Linked DNA regions of Homo sapiens. The protein of the gene in region 4 interacts with the protein of the main gene of each other region in a pairwise test. Each region holds a gene or a part of one and is shown on either strand. Other genes may lie near its edges. The genes, in order: USP5, KHNYN, TLR9 and RNF216.

Evidence for each region.
Region 1: the proteins of RNF216 (region 4) and USP5 interact in binary tests that used the Homo sapiens proteins (3 or more experiments, as listed by UniProt).
Region 2: the proteins of RNF216 (region 4) and KHNYN interact in binary tests that used the Homo sapiens proteins (3 or more experiments, as listed by UniProt).
Region 3: the proteins of RNF216 (region 4) and TLR9 interact in a two-hybrid assay, tested with the Homo sapiens proteins (one study listed by BioGRID).

The regions. Positions count from the first base shown.
Region 1 is NC_000012.12:6,855,098-6,862,356, forward strand, and holds part of USP5 (ubiquitin carboxyl-terminal hydrolase 5), read left to right. Parts: intron 1-257; exon of another isoform or gene 258-303; coding exon 304-429; intron 430-531; exon of another isoform or gene 532-657; coding exon 658-724; intron 725-919; coding exon 920-1,053; intron 1,054-1,207; coding exon 1,208-1,353; intron 1,354-1,609; coding exon 1,610-1,794; intron 1,795-2,531; coding exon 2,532-2,626; intron 2,627-3,326; coding exon 3,327-3,520; intron 3,521-4,372; coding exon 4,373-4,444; intron 4,445-5,053; coding exon 5,054-5,141; intron 5,142-5,268; coding exon 5,269-5,394; intron 5,395-5,855; coding exon 5,856-6,009; intron 6,010-6,345; coding exon 6,346-6,520; intron 6,521-7,259. UniProt on the Homo sapiens protein: Deubiquitinating enzyme that participates in a wide range of cellular processes by specifically cleaving isopeptide bonds between ubiquitin and substrate proteins or ubiquitin itself.
Region 2 is NC_000014.9:24,425,343-24,432,982, reverse strand, and holds the start of KHNYN (protein KHNYN), read right to left. Parts: upstream 3,030-7,640; 5' UTR 2,864-3,029; exon of another isoform or gene 2,360-2,863; intron 2,270-2,359; coding exon of another isoform or gene 2,253-2,269; coding exon 2,052-2,252; intron 1,521-2,051; coding exon 373-1,520; intron 262-372; coding exon 131-261; intron 48-130; coding exon 1-47. Other genes in the region: CBLN3 (cerebellin-3 precursor), read left to right, coding at 3,929-4,228, 4,578-4,697, 4,997-5,194.
Region 3 is NC_000003.12:52,222,597-52,230,557, reverse strand, and holds the start of TLR9 (toll-like receptor 9 precursor), read left to right. Parts: upstream 1-4,912; 5' UTR 4,913-5,028; coding exon 5,029-5,031; intron 5,032-6,245; coding exon 6,246-7,961. Other genes in the region: TWF2 (twinfilin-2), read left to right, coding at 488-638, 776-897, 1,357-1,524.
Region 4 is NC_000007.14:5,771,429-5,778,687, forward strand, and holds part of RNF216 (E3 ubiquitin-protein ligase RNF216), read right to left. Parts: intron 7,236-7,259; exon of another isoform or gene 6,059-7,235; intron 1-6,058.

The DNA.
Region 1 (7,259 bases), on a different chromosome or scaffold from region 4:
AGAAGGAGCAGGTGGAAAGATAAATGGTGACTGGTGTTGCTGTTGAATGGCGACGATGAGCTGGTGTTCCTCAGCCCCCTGATGTCCTTGTTGGTTGTTATCAAAGTCATGGGAGGAAATGGGGAGAATCTTAGCTATGTCCCAGGTCCTAAAAGGCTAAATAACTTGCCAAGGGCCACACAGTGTTAGAGAACAGAACATTTCTTCTGGAACCCAGCAGTTTCTGACTCCAGGTTTTGGTTTCCTCACCTGACCAGGCTTCATAACATCCTCGTGTTTTCACCCTTACCTCTTGTCCCACAGGAGTCTGAGGGGGGCCTCTACATCTGTATGAACACGTTTCTGGGCTTTGGGAAACAGTATGTGGAGAGACATTTCAATAAGACCGGCCAGCGAGTCTACTTGCACCTCCGGCGGACCCGGCGCCCGGTAGGAGCAGGGCTGGGGCAAGGCCTGGGTACATTGTCTGTTCCATTCTGACCTCCTATTGGACTCAGTTTCTTTTTTTCACCTACTTTTGTGTCATTAAAGCTTGGCACAGATGTTTTTTAGCTTTATTCCGTTCTGAGATGAAGCACTACCTCCTTCCGTCCCTCCTCCCGACTTGTTCCTTCGCTCGTGCTCATTGCTGATCCAGCCCTTCCTGCTTCTTTACAGAAAGAGGAGGACCCTGCTACAGGCACTGGAGACCCACCCCGGAAGAAGCCCACGCGGCTGGCTATTGGTGAGCACCGCTGCAGTCCTATTCTTCTCCCTGAGCTGGTCTTTCTGGCTCTCAGCAGCACCAGGAAAGCCCCAAAGAGTGGGCCTGATTGATGGCCCTAGAACTCTGGATGGGGCAAGTGAGGTGCTGGCTCGGAGGAGGGACATTGACCTGTTGTCATTGCTCTACTCTCCCTCTTCTTCCCTATCCTTCCAGGTGTTGAAGGCGGATTTGACCTTAGCGAGGAGAAGTTTGAATTAGACGAGGATGTGAAGATTGTCATTTTGCCAGATTACCTGGAGATTGCCCGGGATGGACTGGGGGGACTGCCTGACATTGTCAGAGATCGGGTATGACTGCCCCCTATGCTACCCAAGATTCTAGAGCAAGATGGGCCAGGGTAGTGGTGTCTTAGGCAAGCACTGACAAAGCTGAAGGCCAAGGGGAAGAGGGGCATGTGGGGCAGGGGGTTGGGTATTGCCTCTGACCCTCTGCTTCCCCCAGGTGACCAGTGCAGTGGAGGCCCTACTGTCGGCCGACTCAGCCTCCCGCAAGCAGGAGGTGCAGGCATGGGATGGGGAAGTACGGCAGGTGTCTAAGCATGCCTTCAGCCTCAAGCAGTTGGACAACCCTGCTCGAATCCCTCCCTGGTGAGGCCTGGCCCCTCTGCCTCGGGCACCACCCCCAGAGCAAGGACAAGGAGCCCACTTTTCTGGGGGATCTGGTGGGAGAGAGGGTAGGGAGCAGGACAGGAAGGGAAGCTTGGAAATGAACACGACATGGGGATGGCCAGAGGAGAAGAGAGAGAGACCTTGGATTGGCGGGGGGCCTGCAGAGCCCTCTCTCTCTGCCACTCCCTCAAATCCCCGACCCACATTTCTGCTGATTCTCTTCTCTGTGGGTTAGTGGCTGGAAGTGCTCCAAGTGTGACATGAGAGAGAACCTGTGGCTCAACCTGACTGATGGCTCCATCCTCTGTGGGCGACGCTACTTCGATGGCAGTGGGGGCAACAACCACGCTGTGGAGCACTACCGAGAGACAGGCTACCCGTTAGCTGTCAAGCTGGGCACCATCACCCCTGATGGAGCTGGTACAGCCTCCCCTCCTCCAGCCACTCTCATGCTTAAATATATTTCATTTGTTAGTAATTTCGTGTGACATGTATAATACATGAATGCATTATCTTGATAAGAAAGGAAAGTAGTCAGGTGCGGTGGCTCATGTTTGCAATCCCAACACTTTGGGAGGCCAAGGCAGGAGAATTGCTTGAGCCTAGGAGTTCGAGACCAGCCTGGGCAACATAGTGAGACCTCATCTCTCCAAAAAAGAAAAAAAAAGAAAAATTGGCTGGGTGTGGTAGCTCCTGCCTGTAGTCTCACCTACTCAGGAGGCTGAGGCAGGAGGATTGTTTGAGCACCCGGGAGGTTGAGGCTGCAGTGAGCTATGATTGCACCACTGGACTCCAGCCTGGGCTACAGAGACCCTGTCTCAAAAAAGGAAAATACTGCAGATGAGACTAAATTTTTGATTACTCCCCACTCAAATCCTCATCCCTTTCCTACCAAGCCTGTCTTACCTTATCCTATACAGGTAGAATCAGAATCACAAGTAATTCCAACCCTCACCCGGTTTCATCTGTCTTCCCTGACCGTCAGCCCCAGAAGGGCCATGACCGCACTCATATTACTCATATTCAAGGGAACCAAGAGGGTGGACCTTACTGGCTCTCCTTCTGTCCCCTCAAGTCCCTTCTGTGCAAGGGATGGGATGGTGGCCTGGCTAGTCCTGAGCCACTTCCCCTGATTCTCTTCCTGCCTCCTGCTCTAGACGTGTACTCATATGATGAGGATGACATGGTCCTGGACCCCAGCCTGGCTGAGCACCTGTCCCACTTCGGCATCGACATGCTGAAGATGCAGAAGGTGAGACCCCCTTCAACTTCAGATTCTTCTACTTCCTGCCCCTGTGAGGGCCCTTCCTCTTTGCCTGAGGCTGAGGTAGGGTTTTGGAGAAATCTTCTAGTTAACCCCATCCCCAAGATACACAGGCTTCTTTTAAATATCTAAAATCATTTATTCAGTGAATAGTACTGAGTACCTACTATGTGCTAGAGGCTGTGTGAATAAGACAGATGTGGTTTTTGCTTACAAGAGTTCTACTCTAGAAGAAAAGGCAGACATTAGTCACATTCCCAGATAAATAAGTGAATAGTTGCAAACTGGTGGGCACTGTGAAAGAGAGGCGGAGGGTACTACAGTAATTGACAGCAGGGTGGCCTGGCCTAGTTTAGGGATCAGGGACATTTCCCTGAGGAAGCGATGCTTAACTGACAATGTGAAGGAGGTTAGGGGTAACTTAAGGATGGGAAAAACATTTCAGGTAGAAGGAAATTTTATTCCTCATTCAAGCAGAGGCCCTGATGACTAACGGGCCTCTGGGACAATTATGTGTGGCCTTCCAGAACTTGAACTGGACGATACTCAACATACCTCCCATGTTTGAGCCTGTAATTCCACAAATTCTAGGCCACAGTTGAGTATCATCCTAGACTCAGTGAGAGATCGAGGTAAAAACTACAGGGTTGAGTTTCTCACTCAGTCTGAAGTGCCCCTTCTCACACAGACAGACAAGACGATGACTGAGTTGGAGATAGACATGAACCAGCGGATTGGTGAATGGGAGCTGATCCAGGAGTCAGGTGTGCCACTCAAGCCCCTGTTTGGGCCTGGCTACACAGGCATCCGGAACCTGGGTAACAGCTGCTACCTCAACTCTGTGGTCCAGGTGCTCTTCAGCATCCCTGACTTCCAGAGGAAGTGAGTAGTGCCCTCTCCTTCCCCAGGCCCCCTCCTGGTCAGCACCCTCTGGGCATACTCCTCCTTCAGCTTCCCTCAGCACCTCTGTGTTTGATTCTAGTCTTAGAGTAGTTCCTATCGGCTGGGTGTGTTGGCCCACACCCGTAATCCCAGTACTTCGGGAGGCCAAGATGGGAGAATTGCTTGAGCCCAGGAGGTTGAGACCAGCCTGGGCAACATAGCGAGACCCTGTCTTCTCTTAAAAAAAAAAAAGAATAATTCCTGTCACACTCTGGCTGACATGCTGTGAGGGGAGCAAGTTAGGGAGCTGCACCACCAGCACCCCAACACACAAACCCCACTGATAGTGCAGAGTGCCAAGTCCCAGGGCTCTGTGGCCTTCTGACAGACTCAAGGGTTAGCAGGTGGTCTTTATTTTAGGGCAGTGACATCAGATGAGCACCTAACATGGACATGTAGCACTTGGGGAGGAGGGGGGCTTGGCACACTAAGAATAAAGGCAGGTTCTCAGCAGAAATGAGTTTACTTTCGAATTTGGGGAACAATTAGAATGTGAATGCTCAGAACATGTCAACAGGTTCTGTCCAATAGAACGTGAACTGCACTTATCCTAATCCCAGGCTACCTTCCCCCTCCCCGGCTCCTCTGCCGCCGAGCGTGCTTGCACATTGGACATAGCTGAGAAGGGGAGAACAGGCAGGTTGCTGGAGAGAAGCGACTCCAAGGTTCACCCACAGCAACTCCCCACTCTTGAGGGGAGCCCGTTCACAGAGTTAGTAAATGTTTGCTTCCTTCCCTTTTCCTCGGCGCTCAGGCCAGAGCCCCTCCAACTGTCCTTCCCTTGACTTTTAGGTATGTGGATAAGCTGGAGAAGATCTTCCAGAATGCCCCGACGGACCCTACCCAGGATTTCAGCACCCAGGTGTATGTAACCAGGTCCTATGTAGGAAAGCTGTTGACAGTCATGGCCGTATACCTTCCTCCTCCCTGACCGCCTGGGGGGCACAGCACTTTAACCCCTGGCCTTTTTTTGTTTTGTTTTGTTTTGTTTTTTGAGACGGAGTCTTGTTCTGTTGCCAGGCTGGAGTGCAGTGGCGCGATCTCGGCTCACTACAACCTCTGCCTCCTGGGTTCAAGTGATTCTCCTGCCTCAGTCTCCTGAGTAGCTAGGACTACAGGCACATGCCACCACGCCCAGCTAAATTTTTTTTGTATTTTTAGTAGAGACGGGGTTTCATCATGTTGGCCAGGATGGTCTCGATCTCCTGACCTCGTGGTCTGCCCACCTCGGCCTCCCAAAGTGCTGGGATTACAGGCGTGAGCCACCGTGCACGGCCACCACTGGCCTATTAGGAGCATTCGGGTGACTGTCTTCTGGACGTGTTGTCTGTCTTGAGCTGGGTTCCTGTAGAATCTAAGGTTTTTCACGTTGTTGAGAGTTAGCTAGGGAGAGCCACGAGCAGGGGGTTGAGCTGGGGACACACAGGGTCGTTAGTTGACTGAAGTGAAATGTTTTCTTGGATATTAATGCAGGGCCAAGCTGGGCCATGGCCTTCTCTCCGGGGAGTATTCCAAGCCAGTACCGGAGTCGGGCGATGGGGAGCGGGTGCCAGAACAGAAGGTGCGTCTAGGACCCTGTCCCTTTCAGGCCCTGGGATTGTGGGGAAGCTGAGGTCTGGGAGATGTCTAAAGAAGGCCCCTGGATGGCCACTGAGCCCCAGCTGAGTCCCTGCCCTGACTCTTCCCAGGAAGTTCAAGATGGCATTGCCCCTCGGATGTTCAAGGCCCTCATCGGCAAGGGCCACCCTGAATTCTCCACCAACCGGCAGCAGGATGCCCAGGAGTTCTTCCTTCACCTTATCAACATGGTGGAGGTAAGGGCTGGCAAGATGGCACACCCCCATCTTCCTGCAATTTACTCGCTCTCCTTCCTGCCCATTTCTCCCTCTATCAGCCCCAACCCAGTCCCATCCCTGAACCCCAACAGTCTGTGTCCCTGTGAACAGTGCTTGCACCTGAGGAGGACAGTGAAGGTGATGATCCCTACCCTTGATGGGCTTGAAGCCCAATTCAGATTATGCCCAAAGACAATGATAAGAGAATACTTGCTGCTTATAAAGAAAAATACAAGCGTGTTCTAACACAGTCCCTCAGTGCAGGGATGGGGCCAGAAATGGGGAGGGGTTGGTGAATTAGGGAAGGTTTCTGCTCTGCTCTTGTGTCCCTGAGTTCCGAGTGGTAGTCTGCCTTCTCTCCCTGACTCTCCCATGAACCTTTCAGGCCCCATTCTGTTCCCTGGCTGCCCAGACCTCCCTACCCTGCCTCTTTCCCATAGAGGAATTGCCGGAGCTCTGAAAATCCTAATGAAGTGTTCCGCTTCTTGGTGGAGGAAAAGATCAAGTGCCTGGCCACAGAGAAGGTGAAGTACACCCAGCGAGTTGACTACATCATGCAGCTGCCTGTGCCCATGGATGCAGCCCTTAACAAAGGTAGGCTGCTCCATCAGCAAGGCCGTGGCACGGTGGGAGGCTAAGGTCTAGGAGGAATGCTTGGGCACCTCATGGGAGCACAGCCCAGGGAATGCCCTGCTTCACCAGCCAAGGTTCCAGTCTGGGCCACCAGGAGTAGGTAGATTAACCTCGTCCAGTGGACACTCAGCTTGTTAGCAGAGCTGCATGGAAACAGGCGAGATATATTGGACATGTGTCAGGGGTGCTTTGGAAGGGTAGAGGAACTGAAATACGGACACAGAGCCAGTAGGGAGAGGCTAAGGAGGCAAAGAAGCAGCACCCTCCGAAGGATCCACCAACCCATTCTGTCACCAGAGGAGCTTCTGGAGTACGAGGAGAAGAAGCGGCAAGCCGAAGAGGAGAAGATGGCACTGCCAGAACTGGTTCGGGCCCAGGTGCCCTTCAGCTCTTGCCTGGAGGCCTACGGGGCCCCTGAGCAGGTCGATGACTTCTGGAGCACGGCCCTGCAGGCCAAGTCAGTAGCTGTCAAGTAAGTCCTCTGGTCGGGGCCTGAGGCTGTGGGTCTATGGCAGAGCTATCCCAGAGGATACTTCTGTCTCTTCCCTGTTCTTTCATCCCTTTGTGGTTGGAACCTCAGGGTTGAATCAGTTGGGCTGGTAATCTGGCCCTGATGGAACCAAGGGGCCCTGGTAGGGGGGACACGGGTACTGACTCTATCTGTCACCTTGTCCTGCCCCAACCACTCCCTCTTCTGTGGCACAGGGTCTCTTTGTAGTGTAGCCTCTCTTCATTGCCCCTCAGTCATGGCTGAGCACAGGCACTTAGGATCAGCTGTGGGCAGAATTTGGATTTCCAGCAAATAGCCACACTTTGAGCCTAGCCATTGGCACCTGGCATGGGTGTGAGACCTGAAAAAGGGCTTTGGTCTCGGGGAGTCAGCTACCCAGCCCTTTGCTGCTCCTGCCAGTGAAACAGCTCTTCCTCTCTGTGTGGGTTTTTTTTTTTTTTCTATGTGTGGGTCTTGCTATGTTTTTTTCCCTACGTGTGGGTCTTGCTATGTTGCCCAGGTTGGTCTCTTAACTCCTGGGCTCAAGCAGTCGTCCTGCCTTGGCCTCCCAAAGTGCTGGAATTACAGATATGAGCCACCATGCCTGGGCTTTTTTCTTTTTCTTTTTTTTGTTGACAGCCTTCCTTCTGGCCTCTACTGCTCCTCGTTGGCCGAGGACAGGCATCAGACACCTGCCCAGGGGAAGAGAAGAATATGGAGG
Region 2 (7,640 bases), on a different chromosome or scaffold from region 4:
GAGGGAGAGCAGGCTGAGGGAATACAGCTTTTGCAGGAAGTGACTCTCTATTGAAAAAGAACATAATAGGGTTCTCCTCAAAGTGGAAACAGAGCCTATCCTGGGACACTGAAGACCAGGCCCAACTCACCTCTGACTTTGGCATCCTTACTGAAGCGCCACTGAGGCACAAAGACAGTTATGTCACGGTGACCACGGTCCCAGAAGTACTGCACAGCAATGGCAATGCCCCGGCTGGAGAAGTAGTGCTGGAGGCCATGCCTGTAGTGGGAGGGGGTCGGCCAGAGGAGGGGCTTGGCACCCTGGCTACAATGCCAGCCCCTCAGGACATATCCTCCCTCTCCTAGGCCCTTAGCCCCACCAGGTACTCACACCATGGCCACGTTGCTGCCGTCAATGACAATATGGCGGAGGTCTGGCTGGCCAGGCACATTGGCAAGGCACAGGGTGAAAGGATCCTGCAGGGCCTCCTTGAAACGCTGTGTGCCAGTCACCAAGTTGCCCCCTCGGGCGCCTCGTTTCCATTGAGGCCCCCGACCCCGTGCCATGCCCTGCTGCTTGTCTCCCCTGTCCCCCACGTCTCCCCGGTCTCCGCAGTCACCCCGGTCTCCACAGTGCCATGGGGGTTCCGGTGCAGGTGGAGGGCTGGGCACCCTCGGAGGAGAGGCATTCCCATTGTGGAGCCGCTGGAGGAGGGAGGCTCCTCGGGACTGAGCTGCCCTGTGACAGGAGCCATGGGCACCGGGAGGCTCACGGTGGACACAGAACCCTCCTCCTCCCAGAGCTATCTCCTCCTTCCCCAGGGCCTTCCCTTTCAGGGGTGCTGACTCCCTTGCCCCTCCACCCACTGACTGTGGCCTGAGGGCCACTTCTCTCTCCCACGCCTCTTCCCCAGGCAACTCCTTCCACCCCCAATCCATCTCCCTGGGACCACCCTGTTTCCCTCCCTCCTTCTCCACAGCGTAAGTGTCTCCCCTTGCTCCCCTGCAATCTCCGGGTCCCATAGATCCAGTGTCCAGGGACTCCCTGCCGTCACTAGGGGGAGCTCTCACTCCTTGGCACTGAGCACCCAGCAAGGCTGAGCTCCGCCCCTCCCAAGAAGCCAGTGCTCCTGGCCCCTGCCCACTAGACGCCTCCTGCACCAGACTCAGCAGCTCCTCCTGGACAGCCAGGGGCAACTGCAACAGAGCCTCTCTATGGGCATCCCCCGGGGACTGCAGCAGGGCAGAGAAGTCTCTCAGCACTCCAGTACACTGAGAGGCTCCGGAAGATGGTCCTGGCGTGAAGTCCCAGCTCAGCCGCTCTGCCAGCTCTTCTACCCGGCTCTGAGCCATGACAAAGGCTTCAGTCAGGCCACTGATCATCAGTGAGCCTGGCGCCCTGGGCACCAGATGGGCTGACGTGCTCCAGGCCAGGCAGTCAAGGAAGAAGCCCTGGGCTCCCAGAAAGATGCAGTGCAGTTTGGGCGGGTAGTGGATTTCATCCTGCAGTTCTGGGCTGCAGAGGCCCTTCAGGTACTCCTGGTTGGGAGGAAGGGAAGGTCAGGAAAAGTAAACTAACTGGCCCAGATCACCCCTCCTGGCTCCTTGCTCGCTCCTGAGCTCCAGGATGTCTGGAGTATCCACATGATGTTATTCCCATTTTAGAGATAAGGAAACTGAGACTCCCATCACAAAGCTGGTACATGATTGAGCCATCCTGGAACCCCAGCCTAATCCCAAAGGAAGCAATGTGGCCCAGCCTCCCACCCCACAGTGCATTCCTTGGTGGGGCCAACTTGTTCAGCCAGATATCTCTATTCTCCCAAAGAGCACAGAATGATTTTTGCCAGCCTGGGCCATCACAGAAGAAATTAAGCTGAAACTGAAAACAAATATAGAGTTGGAAAGTCCCTCAAAACTCAGGGGCACTGAGGTTGCCAGTGAGACAACCAAGAAGTGGAGATCCTCCCCAGGCCCCTCCTCTTCCCTGCTCTCCTCGGCCCTGCTCTCCTCCGCCCTGGGGGAAAGCGTCCTTGGTGCCTGGAGGGATGGGGGAGAGAAGGCGTTCACCTTGGCTCTGCTGGCGTTTTCCTTGGGGCCCTCCAGCTGCAGCCAGATGTGGGGGTTGTCCGGACAGTCCTTCGGAAGGACGCTCACCCCCACGCTGAAGATGCGCTCCACATGGGGCTGCTGTTCCCGAACCTTGTTCTCAGCCTCCGCAGACACCGCAAAGCGATCTGGGGACGCGGGGCGGGCCCCCCAGGTAGGCATGGCTGCTGCCCCCAGCCCTGGAAGGGGAGAAGGCAGCTCAGAGCCTCATTGTACCCTCCATCCAAATCCTGGTTCCTGGGACTACACCAGCTATCAACAGGTCGCACCTAGTTAAGGCTCTGGTAAACAGCCCCAGGAGGTGACAAGCATCTGAGTCCACTGGAGGTAGGGAGGGTGTATGTCACGCAGGCCTCTCCGGAGAGGAAGTCCCGGTAAACAAGGCTGTCTATCGAGAGTGGGCGTCTGGGCTTTGGAAAAGGATGACCACAGTCCGGAGCAAGAAGGGTGGGGGGGCTCCAGCTCGGCCTGGAGGCCAGAAGGAGTCTCCTGGGGCACTCTGAAGCTTCTTAAGGACGAATCCTCAGCAGGGGATTGAACTAGGCTGTCCTCTGGGGGCCCTGGTCTGCCATTTCCAAGGTTCAAGCCACTCCCACCCCTCCCCCAGCCGTCCGCTGCCCCTCTCCGTCGGGCCAGGAGCACCGCCCAGGGCCCAGGGGCCGGGCCGGGCCGGGCCCGCCCACCGCGGACTGGGGCAGCCACCCCGGGCCGGGCCTACTCCGCACCGCGGCCCCCGCTCCCCGCTCCCGGGCGCGGTGGAGGGGCGCGCCTACCGCCTCCGCCGCCCGCGCCGGCTTCAGGTCCTCTCAGCGCCCGCCAGGCCCCCGCTTTGCCCGCGCCCCCAGCCCAGGGGACAAGGGCAGGGGGCCCGAATCTGGGCGGGCCTTCCCGGGTTCCTCACCCAGCGGGGACCTCTCTTGTCCACATCGCACGCAAACTGTTTCTTGAGTCACTTCCTGGCCTGGGGCGGAGTCAGCCCAGCTCCTCCCGGCTGCGCGCCCTCCTCCCAACCCCGCCGCCGCGCCCAGAGGCCCCGACGGGCCCGCTCGGCCTAGTCCCCTCGGCGGCTCCAGGGCTCGCCCCTTGCGCTTCTCACCAGCCCTCCCGTCTGTCTCCCGGCCCTCAGGGTCCTCGCGCATTCTGCGCAGTTACTTCTCGGAAAGGGGAACCATGCGTTGAAAGTTGTTTCCCGCGAATAAAGATGTGGCCGACCAAAGAGGCAGCGTGACTGGCCCACTGGTGCTCTAGGCCCAAGCACTTTCCACCAAAGCAATCGTGGCGGAGGGGGTAGGCGGGAGGCGGGAGGCGGAGGGTACCCGTGGTGGAGTACCCCTTTCTTCCAACAAACGGAAAGATGCCACGAAGAAGGGCTGTTGATTTGTGGGGGATTTTGAAGAGAGGAAGAGTAGGAGGAAGGGGTTGAGGGGCTGCCTCTGGCATATGCACACACTCACACATTCTGTCACACCCGTCACACACACATACCATGTTCTCCATCCCCCCAGGTCCAGCCCTCAGTGCTGTCCCATCCAGCAGGGCTGCCCTGAAGCTCTGGCTGCAGCCCTCCCGTCCAGTGGGCAGGCGGCTTCATCCCTCCTTTCTCTCCCAAAGCCCAACTGCTGTCACTGCATGCTCTGCCAAGGAGGAGGGAACTGCAGTGACAGCAGGAGTAAGAGTGGGAGGCAGGACAGAGCTGGGACACAGGTATGGAGAGGGGGTTCAGCGAGCCTAGAGAGGGCAGACGATCAGGGTGCCGGCGGTGAGAATCCAGGGAGAGGAGCGGAAACAGAAGAGGGGCAGAAGACCGGGGCACTTGTGGGTTGCAGAGCCCCTCAGCCATGTTGGGAGCCAAGCCACACTGGCTACCAGGTCCCCTACACAGTCCCGGGCTGCCCTTGGTTCTGGTGCTTCTGGCCCTGGGGGCCGGGTGGGCCCAGGAGGGGTCAGAGCCCGTCCTGCTGGAGGGGGAGTGCCTGGTGGTCTGTGAGCCTGGCCGAGCTGCTGCAGGGGGGCCCGGGGGAGCAGCCCTGGGAGAGGCACCCCCTGGGCGAGTGGCATTTGCTGCGGTCCGAAGCCACCACCATGAGCCAGCAGGGGAAACCGGCAATGGCACCAGTGGGGCCATCTACTTCGACCAGGTAATCCCCCTACCCCTGTCCAGGGGACCTGGAAAGACCCTGCAAGGACCTGGAAGCAACTGTCCAAGCCCACTTTGCTGTCTCTGAGGCTTTAAGAAAACAGCTTCCTACATCTTTCACTAATCTGGCCTATTGCCCCACCACCCCACCGACGGTTTCCCCTCCCTCCACCCATACGCAGCCCTCTCCTTGCCCCTTCTCACCATTTCTTTTGAATCTGTTCACTCCTATTCACTCCTACTTGCCACTCCTTCTATTCATTACTCACTGCCCCTGCCCCTAGTCCCCATGGTACCCCTGAGCCATGGGCATTTCCTGAGCCCCACTCAGCAGGCTCTGCTTCCCCCAGGTCCTGGTGAACGAGGGCGGTGGCTTTGACCGGGCCTCTGGCTCCTTCGTAGCCCCTGTCCGGGGTGTCTACAGCTTCCGGTTCCATGTGGTGAAGGTGTACAACCGCCAAACTGTCCAGGTGACCTCAGCACTGGCCCCCATCCCCGGCTCAGGAGGGTGGGGAGGGGGAAGAAGGGGAGCCCAGCTGACCTCCGGGTGGACTCTCCATTGACCTGTGTCCTGGAGGCCAGGACCAGGGGAGGAATGGGCCTGCCTTGCATTGAGTGTGGAGGATGTGCAGAGTCCAATGCTGGCCGCCCCTCAGCCCTCCCGGGAGAGCCCATTAAAACCCAGCTTCCCAAGAGGAAGCTCCTGGGAAAGTGGGGGGTCCTGAGCTAAGGGCTGGGGAATGGGGGCTAACTGGGCTCCCCTCCCCAGGTGAGCCTGATGCTGAACACGTGGCCTGTCATCTCAGCCTTTGCCAATGATCCTGACGTGACCCGGGAGGCAGCCACCAGCTCTGTGCTACTGCCCTTGGACCCTGGGGACCGAGTGTCTCTGCGCCTGCGTCGGGGGAATCTACTGGGTGGTTGGAAATACTCAAGTTTCTCTGGCTTCCTCATCTTCCCTCTCTGAGGACCCAAGTCTTTCAAGCACAAGAATCCAGCCCCTGACAACTTTCTTCTGCCCTCTCTTGCCCCAGAAACAGCAGAGGCAGGAGAGAGACTCCCTCTGGCTCCTATCCCACCTCTTTGCATGGGACCCTGTGCCAAACACCCAAGTTTAAGAGAAGAGTAGAGCTGTGGCATCTCCAGACCAGGCCTTTCCACCCACCCACCCCCAGTTACCCTCCCAGCCACCTGCTGCATCTGTTCCTGCCTGCAGCCCTAGGATCAGGGCAAGGTTTGGCAAGAAGGAAGATCTGCACTACTTTGCGGCCTCTGCTCCTCCGGTTCCCCCACCCCAGCTTCCTGCTCAATGCTGATCAGGGACAGGTGGCGCAGGTGAGCCTGACAGGCCCCCACAGGAGCCCAGATGGACAAGCCTCAGCGTACCCTGCAGGCTTCTTCCTGTGAGGAAAGCCAGCATCACGGATCTCAGCCAGCACCGTCAGAAGCTGAACCAGCACCGTATGGGCTAGGGTGGGAGGCTCAGCCACAGGCAGAAGGGTGGGAAGGGCCTGGAGTCTGTGGCTGGTGAGGAAGGAAGGAGGGTGTATTGTCTAGACTGAACATGGTACACATTCTGCATGTATAGCAGAGCAGCCAGCAGGTAGCAATCCTGGCTGTCCTTCTATGCTGGATCCCAGATGGACTCTGGCCCTTACCTCCCCACCTGAGATTAGGGTGAGTGTGTTTGCTCTGGCTGAGAGCAGAGCTGAGAGCAGGTATACAGAGCTGGAAGTGGACCATGGAAAACATCGATAACCATGCATCCTCTTGCTTGGCCACCTCCTGAAACTGCTCCACCTTTGAAGTTTGAACTTTAGTCCCTCCACACTCTGACTGCTGCCTCCTTCCTCCCAGCTCTCTCACTGAGTTATCTTCACTGTACCTGTTCCAGCATATCCCCACTATCTCTCTTTCTCCTGATCTGTGCTGTCTTATTCTCCTCCTTAGGCTTCCTATTACCTGGGATTCCATGATTCATTCCTTCAGACCCTCTCCTGCCAGTATGCTAAACCCTCCCTCTCTCTTTCTTATCCCGCTGTCCCATTGGCCCAGCCTGGATGAATCTATCAATAAAACAACTAGAGAATGGTGGTCAGTGAGACACTATAGAATTACTAAGGAGAAGATGCCTCTGGAGTTTGGATCGGGTGTTACAGGTACAAGTAGGTATGTTGCAGAGGAAAATAAATATCAAACTGTATACTAAAATTACATTTTAAAAGTTGAATAATGTTTGAGTTAAATAGGAAATACCAAGGTGAATTTGTGGTTTTGAAAAGAAATAACTTTTTGAACTGTCACTAATCCTAAAAACAACATCAGGAACAATCTGATATCCATTCTTAGAAACTGGATCTTTGCTTCAGATATTAGTCACCATTAAAAAAAAATACCAAAAACCCTCAGGTTCCTTGGAGAATAGCTGCACACCTTAAGTAACTCCAGGCCCAGAACATGTTGTTGATGACAGAAAGCAAAGATACTTTTTAAATGTATAAAGTAAAGCTGAAAAGGCAAAGGAATCAATTTAAAGAAGCTCCCACTTGACATGCTTTGACAATTTGATTATCAAAAGGAAAATAATACAGTTAATTGGAACAAGGTGAATTTTTTAAATCCATGTACCTGCAATGATATTCAAAAAGGAAGAAGTCACTATAAAGTGTGACAAAAAGTAGTTAATATGCTGAGTGAAGAAGAGTGAATATAGGCTATTTTTAGTGAGTCGTGATAAGTACAAGAACATAAATATAGTAGGCATTTTGTCTATTTGCAAGGTACATTTGTTTTTCTTTATCTATGTAAGTAGGGAGGGGTGAGTACAGAGAACTGTGAATAATTCCAAGAAGATCTGGCACTGTGCCAAGAATGAAAGATACTGGTGGAACTATTTGAGTATATTTTGCAACTAAGAAGAAAAACAGTCCAATGGCGTGTTATAAGACAATGGATTAGTCAGATGTCCAAAAGACAACTGTTCACTGCTCAGGCTTGATCGTTCATCTCCTAGAAAATGGATCCTCTGTATTACCCCACTAATTATAATGAGATATTAATTAGGCAAAATGATTAAGAGTAGGTTTGGCTGTAACAGTAAAACCCAAAATAAGAATAGCTTAAACAAAATAGGAAATCATTTTTGTCTCACATAGAAAAATCTGTAAATAAGAGTCCAGGGATGGATGGCAGCCTTATGATCATTTGAAAGCCCAGTCTTCTGTCTTGTTCTACCATCCTTAGCTTGCCACCTCATGACCCAAGACGGCTCCCTGAGCTCCAGACATTACATCAGCCTAACAGGAAGGAGGAAGGAAGAAACAACACATCTCTTTCCTTGAAAGAAGCTTTCTGAAATATGCACCAATATTTCTGATTGTGTCTCAGTAGAATTTAGTCACCCGGGCTCACCA
Region 3 (7,961 bases), on a different chromosome or scaffold from region 4:
CCCCTCAGCCCCGAGGCCCTTCCTGTCAGAGATCCCCTCTGTTGTCTCCTTGACCACCCCGTTTCCCTAGGCAGGGTCCTTCTGCCCTGGCTGTTCCGGCTGCCGCTTTCAAGCAAAACGGCTCCTCCCTTCCAAGATGCTTCCGCCAGAGGCCTTGCCTCTGAGGATGGGCTGGCCCAGTGGCAGTATCTCCCTGAGGTTGTGACCCTCCACACCATCCTGTCCCAGGAGTCACTACCGTTGACTACCCTTGGTGGGAGTTCCTTCTCTAGCACAACCTTCAAAGGGGCAGAGTTGGGGCTGGGCCCAGGACTGGCCTCTTCAGAGGGACCCCCATAGAGGGATGGCCATTGCAGGGGAGTCTTGGGAGAGGGAGGTCACATCAGGCTCCTGCCCACCAGCTAATCCTGTTTGAGGGCTTCCTGGGGAGAGGGGCCTGGGCCCACCCCGACCTGGTGCTCTCCCATCTTCCCTTGGCCCTGGGCAGAAGCTGGACCTAGAGCGGGAAACCATTGAGCTGGTGCACACAGAGCCCACGGATGTGGCCCAGCTGCCCTCCCGGGTGCCCCGAGATGCTGCCCGCTACCACTTCTTCCTCTACAAGCACACCCATGAGGGCGACCCCCTTGAGTCTGTAGGTGAGTGGCCATGGCAGGGCTCCCAAGCCTGTGGCTGGGTGGGAGCAGGGCTGGTCTGCAGTGGGGCAGGCCTGCTCTGGGTGCGAAGGTCAGCAGGTTTCTCAGGCCTCCCAGGCTCACCTCCTGCCCCCCAACAGTGTTCATCTACTCCATGCCGGGGTACAAGTGCAGCATCAAGGAGCGAATGCTCTACTCCAGCTGCAAGAGCCGCCTCCTCGACTCCGTGGAGCAGGACTTCCATCTGGAGATCGCCAAGAAAGTAGGCGCCCTCCCCAGGGCCTCACCTCCCCAGGCCCTATCACTCCAATCTCCATGTGGGGCGCTGGGGTCCTGAGATGACGGCAGAGCAGGAATCGTTGCTGTCGTGTTGATCATAGGGCATCTGAGGCCCAAGGAGCAACACGCATGGCCCAAGGCTGCCCAGCTGATCGGTGGCTCAGAAAAGTCCAAGTCCTGGCTACCATGTCATGTCCTTTCCCTGGGCCTGGAGACAGGGAGGAGGTGACCCCAGCGAGCAGAGTCCAAGGCATGCAGGGCAGCAGGCCCTAAGCTCTTGCTTTCCTGGGAGTGGCATTCCAGGTGGGGAATCAAGGGGAGACCTCAGGAGACCCCAGGGCTAGGATGTGAGAGTAAGGGGTGCCCCAGGAGTGGGGGCTACCAGGGGTGGTGTGTGTCAGAGCCCCTCCCATTGGGGTGACCACTGCCTTGCCCCATGCAGATTGAGATTGGCGATGGGGCAGAGCTGACGGCAGAGTTCCTCTACGACGAGGTGCACCCCAAGCAACACGCCTTCAAGCAGGCCTTCGCCAAGCCCAAGGGCCCAGGGGGCAAGCGGGGCCATAAGCGCCTCATCCGCGGCCCGGGTGAAAATGGGGATGACAGCTAGGAGGCTGGAGCAGGGCCGGCCACGTGTGGACTGTGGGGCTGCCCACCTTCCGCTCCCTGCCACCATCCTCCTTCCTGGGCTCCAGGAAAGTGTTTCTGGGAGGTCAGGAGGGCTGGCAGCTGAACGCACTTGCAGCGTCCGAGGGCCACCGGGCTGGCATTTTGTGACCCTTCCCTGTTGCTGTCCCTGCATCTCGTCTGTGTGCCCAGGGTGTCCGGGGACCCTGCCTGGCTGGCTTAAGGGGGCTGGGTCAGGGGCCTGGCATGAACCTGGCCTCCCGGGGAGCTGAGACTAGGGTCCCAGCACAGCCCAGAAACCTTTGGCCACAAGAAGTGGGGTCAGTCAGGGCTGGGGCAGGGGTCACTGCAGTTTGGGATGGTTGAATGCTGTATTTTCTAAAGAATAAAATATTTTTAAATCAAGACTTGTGCTTGGCCCTGAGAGACCGCCTCTGGCCCTGGGAATTGGGCAGTCTTGTGCATATAACTGTCCTTTCCCAACAGGGGAGAGGGGAGTGCCGGCCTGCGAGGTGGAGCCCCAGCACTCCACCTCCAGGTGTGTGGGAGAGGCTGTGCCTGTGAGTGGGCGTGCAGCCTCACGCGGGTCTCCCAGTCAACAGGAGCCCTGCTGGAGAGGCAGGCGCGCCTCCACTGTGACATGAGGGATCTGCATATGGTCATTTGCTGAGGCTGCCGTAACAAATTACCACCAACTTAGTGGCTTCGAAGAAACTCAAATGTATTCTCTTACAGTTCTGGAGGCTGGAAGACTGAGATGGGTCTCACAGGGCCAAAGTTGAGGTGTTGGCAGGGCTGGCTGTGTCTGGGCCCCTCAGAAGAACCCATCTCCTGGCCTTTTCTGGCTGTATTCCTTGGCTTGGGGCCCCTTCCTCCACCTTCAAAGCCAGAGGTGACATCTCTGATTCTGCTTTCCTCAGCCTCTGGGCTCCCATGGCCTTTTGTAGTCGAATCTCCCTCTGTCTCCATTTCATAAGGGACATTGTAATTGCATTCACCCTCCCTGCCCCCACCACCTACCCCTGTCAAGATGGGTAACTTAATCACATCTGCGAAGTCGTTTTTGCCACACTGTGGGGTGTTGGGGTCACGTGTTTGCAGGTTTGGGGAATTAGGACAAGGATCTCTGAGAGGGACTTTATGCAGCCTCCCACATGGGATAAGGGCTCCTCCTCGAAGGCTTCCCAGCCTCCCTGGGCTGAGGCCAGGACAAGTTTTTCTGTGGACATCGATATCGGTGTCTCCAAGCTGAGTGTGTCCATGTGCGTGGGTCTGTACCTGTGTGTGCAGACCCCTCTGTCAGCTTACTGGCCTCTCTGGTTTTCTGCCTCCAAAGAAGGCAGGGCCACTGCTGGGTATGGGGGTCTGGGTCCCTGGTCCAAGGGACTCTGGGAAAGTCTCAGGCTTGGGGCTCCACAGGAGCCCGAGCTTTGGTGTATCCCTCTGAGAGGTGGATGGAGGGAATGAATGCAGGTGCCTTCCACCCCAGGCAGGCAGGAGTGGAAGCATGGGGTTGATGCCTGCAGCCCAGCTACTGAGTGGGCACTGCTCTCCTTCCTGGCTCAGGGCAACATTCTATCCCTGGCGCCTTTCTGAGCCCCTGCTCAAGCCCCTAGAATTGTAGAGAGGAGAGCCAGACTAGCTAAGACCCAGAGGAGGCTTGTCCTTGCCCAGCCGAAACATTGGCTCCCAGGTGGGCAGGAAGACGATGCCATCGCCCCCTGCTGCTGAGCCAGCCAGATGCCTGGCACTATGGAGCCTGCCTGCCATGATACCACCCAGAGTGGGCCTGGGGGGAGCAGGCTGGCAGATGTGCAGCCTTGCCTCCTCCCAGCAGCAACAATTCATTAATTCATTCATTCAGCCTTCACTCAGAAATACCCTCTCTGTGCCTGCCCAGAGCTGACTGCTGGGTGTACATAATTCAGCAGATATCAAGCACTTACTATGTGCTGGGCACTGTACTGGATCCTGGGGATGCAGATAAAAGATCACTGCCCTTAAGAAGCTGACATTCCAGCAGGGGAATAAGACGATATACAATAAACCATGAAAGATCAATGATCCGGTGTGCTAGCAGTTAAAAAATGTTAGGACAAAGAGAAACATAGACCAGGCAAAGGAGCTCAGGAGTGCCAGATCTGGGGTGGGAGGTTTGTAAGAAGGCTGGATGGCCCTGTTGAGAGGGTGACATGGGAGCAGAGACATAATGGAGGCAAAGGAGGGGTCATATGAGACTTGGGGGAGTTTTCAGGCAGAGGGAACAGCACATCCCAAGGCCCTGAGGCAGGAGAATGCCCAGGGGCTACACAGTCAACTGCAAGCAGGCCAGTGGGCCTGGAGAGCACTCAGGGGAACAGCGGGTGGCAGGTCCCATAGGGCCTTGTTGGCCATCTGTGGACTGTGGCTTTGACTCCAGAGTCAGCCAGGGAGGGGTCTGAGCAGAGGAGGGACCTAGTGTGACTTAGGTTTGAACAGTTCCCTCTAGGGGCTGAATGTGACCAGCCCCTGGAGGGCAGAGAGCAGGGCAGGACAGCCAGAAGGGAGGTGGCACCTGCATGGGTCTAGGAGAGAGGATGGGGGCTGGTGGACATGGGGACGGTGGGCTGTGGGCACACCCTTCAGCATGGTGGACCCAGCAGAACTTGCTGAGGGGCCCGGGGTCACCCAAGGCTTTGGGCCCGAGGAATCTGAGTCTCCTCACCTAGATCAGAAGGAGAGTGGGAAGAACTGATGGGGAGGACTGGCTGGCGGCCCTGCTGGGCCAGCACACACCTGGCCTCTAGGAGCCCCATCTGGAGTGACGTGGTGTGTGCTCTGATGGGGCCCCAGGGGCTCTGGGAATGTGGAGGAGGAGGTCTTGTTTCCGGAAGATGTTGCAAGGCTGTGGTGAAGGCAGGTGCAGCCTAGCCTCCTGCTCAAGCTACACCCTGGCCCTCCACGCATGAGGCCCTGCAGAACTCTGGAGATGGTGCCTACAAGGGCAGAAAAGGACAAGTCGGCAGCCGCTGTCCTGAGGGCACCAGCTGTGGTGCAGGAGCCAAGACCTGAGGGTGGAAGTGTCCTCTTAGAATGGGGAGTGCCCAGCAAGGTGTACCCGCTACTGGTGCTATCCAGAATTCCCATCTCTCCCTGCTCTCTGCCTGAGCTCTGGGCCTTAGCTCCTCCCTGGGCTTGGTAGAGGACAGGTGTGAGGCCCTCATGGGATGTAGGCTGTCTGAGAGGGGAGTGGAAAGAGGAAGGGGTGAAGGAGCTGTCTGCCATTTGACTATGCAAATGGCCTTTGACTCATGGGACCCTGTCCTCCTCACTGGGGGCAGGGTGGAGTGGAGGGGGAGCTACTAGGCTGGTATAAAAATCTTACTTCCTCTATTCTCTGAGCCGCTGCTGCCCCTGTGGGAAGGGACCTCGAGTGTGAAGCATCCTTCCCTGTAGCTGCTGTCCAGTCTGCCCGCCAGACCCTCTGGAGAAGCCCCTGCCCCCCAGCATGGTAGGACAACAGCTCTCAGTCCCCTGGGGAAGGGGATATCCTGGGAAGGGGTGGGGAAAGAAGTGGGCTTGGCAGCTGCAAGCAACAGTGACGGGTTGTCACCCACATGGCCCTGGGGACACTCACTGAATCCTGAAGACTTCAGAGCCGAAGCCCTCTTCTTTTTTCTTTTTTTTTTTTTTTGAGACGGAGTTTCGCTCTTGTTGCCCAGGCTGGAGTGCAGTGGCTTGATCTCAGCTCACTGCAATCTCCACCTCCCGGGTTCAAGTGATTCTCCTGCCTCAGCCTCCCAAGTAGCTGGGATTATGGCTTGCGCCACCATGCCTGGCTAATTTTGTATTTTTAGTAGAGCCAGGGTTTCTCCATGTTGGTCAGGCTGGTCTTGAACTCCAGACCTCAGGTGATCTGCCCACTTCGGCTTCCCAAACTGCTGGGATTACAGGTGTGAGCCACCGTGCCCAGCCACTGAAGCCCTCTTCTGAGCAATGAGACCCAAACCCCCAGAGGGGACGAGGAGACTGAGGCACTGATGGAGCTGGGGCTGGAGCCTGGGTTTGGGTCTCACTGGGCCTGTAGCTTGGGGCTGGCTCTGTCTGGCACTTTGCAGGCCACCCCTCTCTCCATCTGTTCTGACCCATAAGGCAAAGGCTCTCGGGCTAGGTGAGGCAGGCAGAGAGTGATGGAGCTGTGCAGTGCCCTCTGGCCAGGGTCCCTGGGAGGCAGCCGGCCTGGGCCATAGTGGGAGACTCTCACACCTGCCTGAATCTTGGCCGAAGGAAAAGGAAGGGGTTGTGGGGTGGCTGGTGGAGGGCAGAGAGCGGATTTCAGGGCAGCTGGAGGGGAGGGAGCCAGCTGCCACCTTGCTCAGGAGCAGGAAGGGAAAGTCGGGGAGAGACCAGGGGGGGCCGTGGGCCACCTTGCCTGGCCTGGTATAGCCAGGGATTGGTTAAGTGAAAGCTGTAGATCATAAGTCTGGATTCTAGGTCTCAGTCCTGGTTCTGAAGCCTAATTCTGAGTCCAAGACTGGGTCTGAGACTGAGTTCAGGTTCCCCACAAGCCATGGGGGATGGGAATGGGGCTTGGCAGCCAGGAAGAACTTCTGCAGGTAGGGCTTGGAGAGAGGGGTTGGAAGATGCTAGAAGATGCCCATGAAGTGGAGTGGGTGGAGGTAGAGCTGGGGGCCGGCCACTCACACAGCCCTCCCACCCCCACAGGGTTTCTGCCGCAGCGCCCTGCACCCGCTGTCTCTCCTGGTGCAGGCCATCATGCTGGCCATGACCCTGGCCCTGGGTACCTTGCCTGCCTTCCTACCCTGTGAGCTCCAGCCCCACGGCCTGGTGAACTGCAACTGGCTGTTCCTGAAGTCTGTGCCCCACTTCTCCATGGCAGCACCCCGTGGCAATGTCACCAGCCTTTCCTTGTCCTCCAACCGCATCCACCACCTCCATGATTCTGACTTTGCCCACCTGCCCAGCCTGCGGCATCTCAACCTCAAGTGGAACTGCCCGCCGGTTGGCCTCAGCCCCATGCACTTCCCCTGCCACATGACCATCGAGCCCAGCACCTTCTTGGCTGTGCCCACCCTGGAAGAGCTAAACCTGAGCTACAACAACATCATGACTGTGCCTGCGCTGCCCAAATCCCTCATATCCCTGTCCCTCAGCCATACCAACATCCTGATGCTAGACTCTGCCAGCCTCGCCGGCCTGCATGCCCTGCGCTTCCTATTCATGGACGGCAACTGTTATTACAAGAACCCCTGCAGGCAGGCACTGGAGGTGGCCCCGGGTGCCCTCCTTGGCCTGGGCAACCTCACCCACCTGTCACTCAAGTACAACAACCTCACTGTGGTGCCCCGCAACCTGCCTTCCAGCCTGGAGTATCTGCTGTTGTCCTACAACCGCATCGTCAAACTGGCGCCTGAGGACCTGGCCAATCTGACCGCCCTGCGTGTGCTCGATGTGGGCGGAAATTGCCGCCGCTGCGACCACGCTCCCAACCCCTGCATGGAGTGCCCTCGTCACTTCCCCCAGCTACATCCCGATACCTTCAGCCACCTGAGCCGTCTTGAAGGCCTGGTGTTGAAGGACAGTTCTCTCTCCTGGCTGAATGCCAGTTGGTTCCGTGGGCTGGGAAACCTCCGAGTGCTGGACCTGAGTGAGAACTTCCTCTACAAATGCATCACTAAAACCAAGGCCTTCCAGGGCCTAACACAGCTGCGCAAGCTTAACCTGTCCTTCAATTACCAAAAGAGGGTGTCCTTTGCCCACCTGTCTCTGGCCCCTTCCTTCGGGAGCCTGGTCGCCCTGAAGGAGCTGGACATGCACGGCATCTTCTTCCGCTCACTCGATGAGACCACGCTCCGGCCACTGGCCCGCCTGCCCATGCTCCAGACTCTGCGTCTGCAGATGAACTTCATCAACCAGGCCCAGCTCGGCATCTTCAGGGCCTTCCCTGGCCTGCGCTACGTGGACCTGTCGGACAACCGCATCAGCGGAGCTTCGGAGCTGACAGCCACCATGGGGGAGGCAGATGGAGGGGAGAAGGTCTGGCTGCAGCCTGGGGACCTTGCTCCGGCCCCAGTGGACACTCCCAGCTCTGAAGACTTCAGGCCCAACTGCAGCACCCTCAACTTCACCTTGGATCTGTCACGGAACAACCTGGTGACCGTGCAGCCGGAGATGTTTGCCCAGCTCTCGCACCTGCAGTGCCTGCGCCTGAGCCACAACTGCATCTCGCAGGCAGTCAATGGCTCCCAGTTCCTGCCGCTGACCGGTCTGCAGGTGCTAGACCTGTCCCACAATAAGCTGGACCTCTACCACGAGCACTCATTCACGGAGCTACCGCGACTGGAGGCCCTGGACCTCAGCTACAACAGCCAGCCCTTTGGCATGCAGGGCGTGGGCCACAACTTCAGCTTCGTGGCTCAC
Region 4 (7,259 bases):
CACCAAAGAAATTCAGAATGAAAAGGCAAGCCACCAGGAGAAAATATAAAAACTCTTGCATGTTAACTGAAAAGAAAAAGAATCCCGGCGGGGTGCAGTGGCTCATGCCTGTAATCCCTGCACTTTGGAAGGCCAAGGCAGGCAGATCACTTGAGCTCAGGAGTCTGAGACCAGCCTGGACAACATGGCAAAACCCATTTCTACAAAAAAAGCAAAAAAATTTAGCCAGGCGCAGTAGCGGGCACCTAGTCCCAGCTACTCAGGAGGCTGAGGTGGGAAGATCTCTTGAGCTCGAGAGGTGGAGGTTGCAGTAGGCTGTGATCCCGCCACTGCATTCCAGCCTGGGCAATGGGAGTGAAACCCTGTCCCCCCACCAAAAAACATCTGCCCAAAGGAAAAATGGGGCAAACAATTTGAATTAACAACGGCTGAGTACCCCGAGGAAACGCAAAAGGCCAATAAATAAATGAAAAAGTGTCCAACATTATGAGACATCAGAGAAATGTAAACTAAAACCACAAGGGGCCGGGCGTGGTGGCTCACGCCTGTAATCCCAGCACTTTGGAAGGCCGAGGCGGGTGGATCACCTGAGCTCAGGAGTTCGAGACCAGCCTGACCAACATGGAGAAACCCTGTCTCTACTAAAAATACAAAATTAGCTGGGCATGGTGGCCCATGCCTGTAATCCCAGCTACTCAGGACGCTGAGGCAGGAGAATCGTTTGAACCCGGGAGGTGGAGGTTGCGGTGAGCCGAGATCAAGCCATTGCACTCCAGCCTGGGCAACAAGAGTGAAACTCCGTCCCAATAAAATAAAGTAAAATAAAATAAAACCACAAGGAAATTCTGGGAAGACAGTAGTAGTAACAGCAGAATAGTCTTTGAATCTCCTCAAATTCTTACATAGTAACAGAAAAAATTCCATGGACAACAGTTACAAAAAAACTAGACAAGAAAGAATCTCCACAAACACCAAATTACTATAAACACAAGATTTAAATGTGCTTCTTGCTGTGTCACCCAGGCTGGAGTGCAGTGGTGCGATCTCGGCTTACTGCAACTTCCATCTCCCAGGTTTAAGCGATTCAATCCTTTCCTTCCTCTCTGAGAAAATCTCAATTTTCTTTGCCTTCCTGGGAGAAACCACTGTGCCTCAGAGGCAGTAAGCCCCAGATCGGGGCTTCTCATTAAATGTCTACAAAGAGTTAATAGTCAAATAATATCAGCATTTTCTCAACTTATAGAATGTGAAGTTATAGATACTATCAAAATATACAGATATCAAAACCAGGTTAGCAAAGTTTTACAACAGAAATTTCTAGCATTGATAACTGAAAAAAGATATTCCTTTTTTTTTTTTTTTTTTTGAGACAGAGTTTCGCTCTTGTCATCCAGGCTAGAGTGCAATGGCACGATCTCGGCTCACTGCAACCCTCTGCATCCCGGGTTCAAGCAATTCTCCTGCCTCACCCTCCCGAGTAGCTGGGATTACAGGCATGCGCCACCATGTCTGGCTAATTTTTGTATTTTTTAGTAGACACAGGGTTTCACCATGTTGGCCAGGCTAGTCTCGAACTACTGACCTCTGGTGATCCACACGCCTCAGCCTCCCACAGTGGTGGGATTACAGGCATGAGCCACCATGCCTGGCCCCAGGTATTCCCACTTTTAAAACTGACATATATCAGCGTAAGTTTGGGTCTCTCATTTGAAATAATGATATTGATGTTATTAATAAGTAGCATGGTATTTAAAAGAACAGCTCTGGTATCAAATTTGAACTGCATCTAATCAAGTCCTTTTTTTTCCCCAAATAAGATTTTTTTTTTTTTTGAGACAGAGTCTCCCACTGTCACCTGGGCTGGAGTGCAGTGGTGCAATCTCAGCTCACTGCAACCTCCACCTCCTGGGTTCAAGCGATTCTTCTGCCTCAACCTCCAGAATAGCTGGGATTAAGGGTGCCCGCCACCAAACAAGCTAGTTTTTTGTATTTTTAGTAGAGACAATGTTTCACCATGTTGGCCAGGCTGGTTTCAAACTCCTGACCTCGTGATTTCCCCGCCTTGGTCTCCCAAAGTGCTGAGATTACAGGAGTGAGCCACCACACCCAGCCAGATTTTTAAAAAGTATTTTGAACACTATTTTCAAGCCAAATTTTGAGACGGAATCTTGCTTTGTCACCCAGGCTGGAGTGCAGTGGCACGATCTCAGCTCACTGCAACCTCCGTCTCCCAGGTTCAAGCGATTCTCCTGCCTCAGCCTCCCTGAGTAGCTGGGACGACACATGCGTGCCACCATGCTGGTTAATTTTTGTATTTTTAGTAGAGAAGTGGTTTTGTCATGTTGGCCAGGCTGATCTTGAACTCCTGACTTCAGTGATCTGCCTGCCTCAGCCTCCCAAAGTCCTGGGATAACAGGCGAGTCACCGTGCCTGGCCCCAAGCCAAATTTCTTATTTTTTCTTTGACCACAACTGGCTTCCTTCAATTTTACACTGAAAATCAAAGGGAGATGTGAGTCATTTTTACAGCTAATTTAGTTGAAATGTCAGGCTTGTAGTTAAGCAGACTGCTAGTAACGGTTCAAAAAATTCCTCATGAGTGGCACACCAGTGGCCCCAACCTGTGAGAAGAAAAGAATTCTGATGATGGAATTTCTACTCTTAACTAAATGTAAGTCTCTGTATCAGGTCATTTAACTCTCTGACACTCAAGTCTTTTAATCTGGGCTTCGGATAATACTGCCTATGTTTAAATCTTGGTTTCCCATTTAGTCAATCGGTGGCTCCAGATAAATTGTTCAATCTCCTAGGCCAATTTCCTCATTTGTAAAATGAGAATACAGTTGTTTTAAAATTAGTTGCGGGTAGGTAGAGTGGCATGTGCCCAAGTCCCAGCTTTACTGTGGTTGCTGAAGCAAGAGAATCCTTTGAGCCCAGGAGTTCAATGCTGCAAGTAAGCTATGATAGCACCATTGCACTCCAGCATAGGCGGCAGAGGGAGAACCTACCTCCAAAAAAATTCATTAATTTTAAAAAATAAAAACTTTTTAAAAACTAAATCAGTTGAATTACATGAAGTTTTAGCACAGTGCCTGATATATACTAAGTGTGACATTGTGCTATTTTTATTAACTGTTACCTGCGAAACAGAAAAATCAAAATAGCTATTCTTACATTACAAGGCTATGTTGAAAAATGAGAAGCCACTTTGTATATGGTAAATACCATCAAAATAGCTGCATTGTAATCACAAGTACACAGGAAATGCAGTGCTTATTAATAAAATACAGTTCAAGGGGGGAAAAAATCTTTATTTTCCCATTCCAAGTTACTTTTTTTTTTTTTATTGAGACGAAGTTTTGCTCTTGTTGCCCAGGCTGGAGTGCAATGGTGCAATCTCAGTTCACTGCAACATCCCCTCCAGAGTTCAAGTGATTCTCCTGTCTCAGCCTCCCAAGTTACAGGCATGTTGCCACCATGCCCAGCTAATTTTATATTTTTAGTAGAGATGAGGTTTCGCCATCTTAGGTTGGTCTTGAAATGCCGACCTCAGGTGATCCACCCCCCCGACACTCACCAAAGTGGTGAGATTACAGTCGTAAGTCACTGTGCCTGGCCTCTTTTCTTACTTATAGTTGTATTTCCAATGCCTAGCACAGTTGTTGAACGAGTGGCTCCAAAAACTTCTTCCTCTGTCAAAGACTGGAGCTGTTATTCACCATGGCCATAGAACCAGAGTCAGGAAACATGGCCTAGGCAACAACAATTAGGATTTTCTTCAGTTATCAAGTATTGCCCATTACAGAAAATATGGGAAACAAAGGAAGTCAGGAAGAAAAGAGAATCGCTCACGGTTCTCTCACCCAATTTTCTGGTTTTCAAAATCTCACCTTCACTTCCTCGTGACCAGAATGCTTGAGGCTGTCTTCTACAAATCATTTTTTTCTCCTTGTTCTATTCATGCTGCTTCTCCATTTTTCCTTATGTATATGCTCCTAAACTACTACTGTATGATCCTAGGGCTCTGTAGTGCCCCTGGCTCTCCAGAATACTTCCTGTAAATATGCCTGCCACTTCTGCAACAGATTTGGGGGTCACTAAAGACTTTCAAATTTAATGAGTTAATCCCTTTGACTTCCCAGCAAAAAGTGGGCAAAGCAGGCCAGGTGCAGTGGCTCACACCTGTAATCCCAAAACTTTGAGAGGCCGAGGTGAGTGGATTATTTGAGGTCAGGAGTTCAAGACCAGCCTGGCCAACACGGTAAAACCTGTCTCTACTAAAAATACAAAAACTAGCCAGGCGTGGTTGCAGGCACCTGTAGTCCCAGCTACTCGGGAGGCTGAGGCAGGAGAAATGCTTGAACCCGGGATGCAAAGCTTGCAGTGAGCCTAGAATGCGCCACTGCACTCCTGCCTGGGTGACAGAGCGAGATTCCATCTCAAAAAAAAAAAGAAAAAGTGGGCAAAGCAGAGCTAGGCACAGGCTGGAAGAAGATGACATGCCCGTGTCACACCAGGCCTCCACAATACCTCTTCCCAGCATGTTTTTAAAAATGTCTATAAACGATTGTTTTTCATTCAAATACCAGTTGCTCATCCTAACCATTCTTTGGATATCCATCCTTTTGTAAGTCTGTACTAATACAATTAATATTAAATCAATACAGAAAAAGTTTACTGTTAGCTCTCCATATCCATATGTGAAAGCTGTGGATATGGAGAGCTGACTGTACTGCTACAGCATTTTATGTAACAAGAATTGGTTATGCATCATCGGGAATACATCAAAACAAACTCTCAAATGGATTTTGTCTCAAAGAACTCAGAGTCCCATCAATCAGAGAATAAAGTCACTAGTGTAATAAAGAGACTATAGCCGGGCACGGTGGCTCAAGCCTGTAATCCCAGCACTTTGGGAGGCCAAGGCGGGCGGATCACGAGGTCAGGAGACGGAGACCATCCTGGCTAACACGGTGAAACCCCGTCTCTACTTAAAAAAAAAAAAAAGCACAAAAAAATTAGCCAGGCGTGGTGGCGGGCGCCTGTAGTCCTAGCTACTCAGGAGGCTGAGGCAGGAGAATGGCGAGAACCCGGGAGGCGGAGCTTGCAGTGAGCTAAGATCGGGCCACTGCACTCTAGCCTGGGCGACAGAGCAAGACTCCGTCTCAAAAAAAAAAAAAAAAAAAAGACTATAGGGGAAGGGCAGGTAGTCAGTGAAGGTTTCACAGGAATAGCCATATCAAGCTAAAGTGAGAGACGTGTCAGATCTGGGTTTATCCTTTAAAAGCACAGCAGCCCCTGACTCTACTAAAAAAATACAAAAATTAGCTGGGTGTGGTGGCTCATGCCTGTAATCCCTGTTACTCTGGAGGCTGAGGCACAAGAATGGCTTGAACCTGGGAGGAGGAGGTTGCAGTGAGCTGATATTGTGCCACTGCACTCCAGCCTGTGCGACAGAGGGAGACTCTGTCCAAAAAAAAAAAAAAAAAAGAGAGAGAGAAAAAGAGAGAGAGAGAGAAAAAAAGAAAGAAAGAAAGAAAAAGAAAGTGAAAGAAAGGAAGAGAAAGAGCGAGTGAGCACAACAGCTTTCACTTAGGGCTCCTGGGCCCAGAGTCATCAGGTAAAAAGTCTGAATACCCTGCTGAGAGATCACACAGAAAGACCTGACACTACACGTGGAGGGAAAGAGCCAGTGGAGCCCGGCCTTCCAGCAGTCTTTGACAAGGCATGTGAACGAAGAAGACATTGTGGAAGCGGATGCTCCAGCACTGGCCACCTCTGCTGACAACATGTCGACCAGAGAAAAATGGCCCAGGTGAGCACTTCTCAATTCTCCTGATTCATAAAACTGTCAACAAACAAAATTATTCTATGAAGCAGTAAGTATTAGGGTGGTTTGTTATACATCAACAGATAACTGAAACAGAGCTCAGATTTTATTTTCTAGCCAATGGGAAGCAATGCAATGACAGCTGTGCTTTAGAAAAATCAACCTGGCTGCAATGTGTAAGATGGCATGTAGGAGACAACCGGTGCCAGGAAACAAGAGCCAACAGTACCTAGGGGGAGGAGAAGAATACAAGACACTGACTGCAGAGTTAGAGTCGATGGGATCTGTGTATGTCACTGGCCATCAGGGCAAGAAGAAAGGAATCAAAGTTGACCTAGACGCTGAGATCAGGTGACCACAGGATGGTGATGCTATTAAGGAAGAACAAAGCAGATGATGAGTTCAGAGAAAGAAAACGAAAATTGTGTTAACTTTAATATGTGGACAAAATATGGTAAAATAACATCCATCATTATGGATATAAATATGCAAACAATTAGTCTAGAGTTTAACAGCTCTAAGAATCCTATTATCTGTGTATTTTTACAATAGGAAAGGTTTTAAATCAAAAATTAAACTCAAAATCTTCAGTGGGCGGGCTAAACAATTTAACATAAAACATCAAGATTTTCTTCAACTGTCCAATGAAAATTAGTTTAGAAACTAGGACAGATAAGTAAGTACATCCTCATGTGTGGAGGGTAAAATCAACGTTTTCAACGATCTTTTTAGAACTGAATCTTCTGTGACCAAAGGACATGCTTCTGCTTCTAGCCCAAGTACTGCCTTGCAGGCTCCATCCCTTGACATGTTTTCATACGGCATTTGAGTTATTTCTTTTAAACCACAAATCTCACCATGGTGAAACCGAAATCCTTACCATGGCCTACAAAACGCTACCATCACCTGACCTTGCTGACATAGCGGGCCTTACCTCATACCTTTTCCCCCCGCATTCACCATTCAGTAGTAACAATGGTTCAGTTCCATGACTTGCTCCTTCCTTCCACTGCAGGCTCTTCCCCAGCTAAACTACTCTTCTTCACTGCCTCTTGGACCAAATTAACTCTATTCATTGTTCGGTTCTTTGCTTTCTCCTCAGAGAAAAATTGTTCCTGATTATCCCCTAGATGTTCCTCCCTGGTTCAATCACACAACGTACCTCATTTCTTCAAAGTACTTCCAACAATACTTTAATATACTTATTTAGGAAACTATGTGTAATTTTGGTCTCCTCTGCTAAAACTTAAGTTCCAAGAAGGCAGAACCAAAGTGTCACTTGATCCCAAAGCCCCAGGACATAGCATATCGGATGGCACAGTAGATGATCTTCAATAGTAGATGTACTTTCAGAATAAATAGCACTCACTAATTATAGAAGGATAATTAGTGGCATGAACTCTGGGTCCAAACTGAGTTCAAGTTCCACG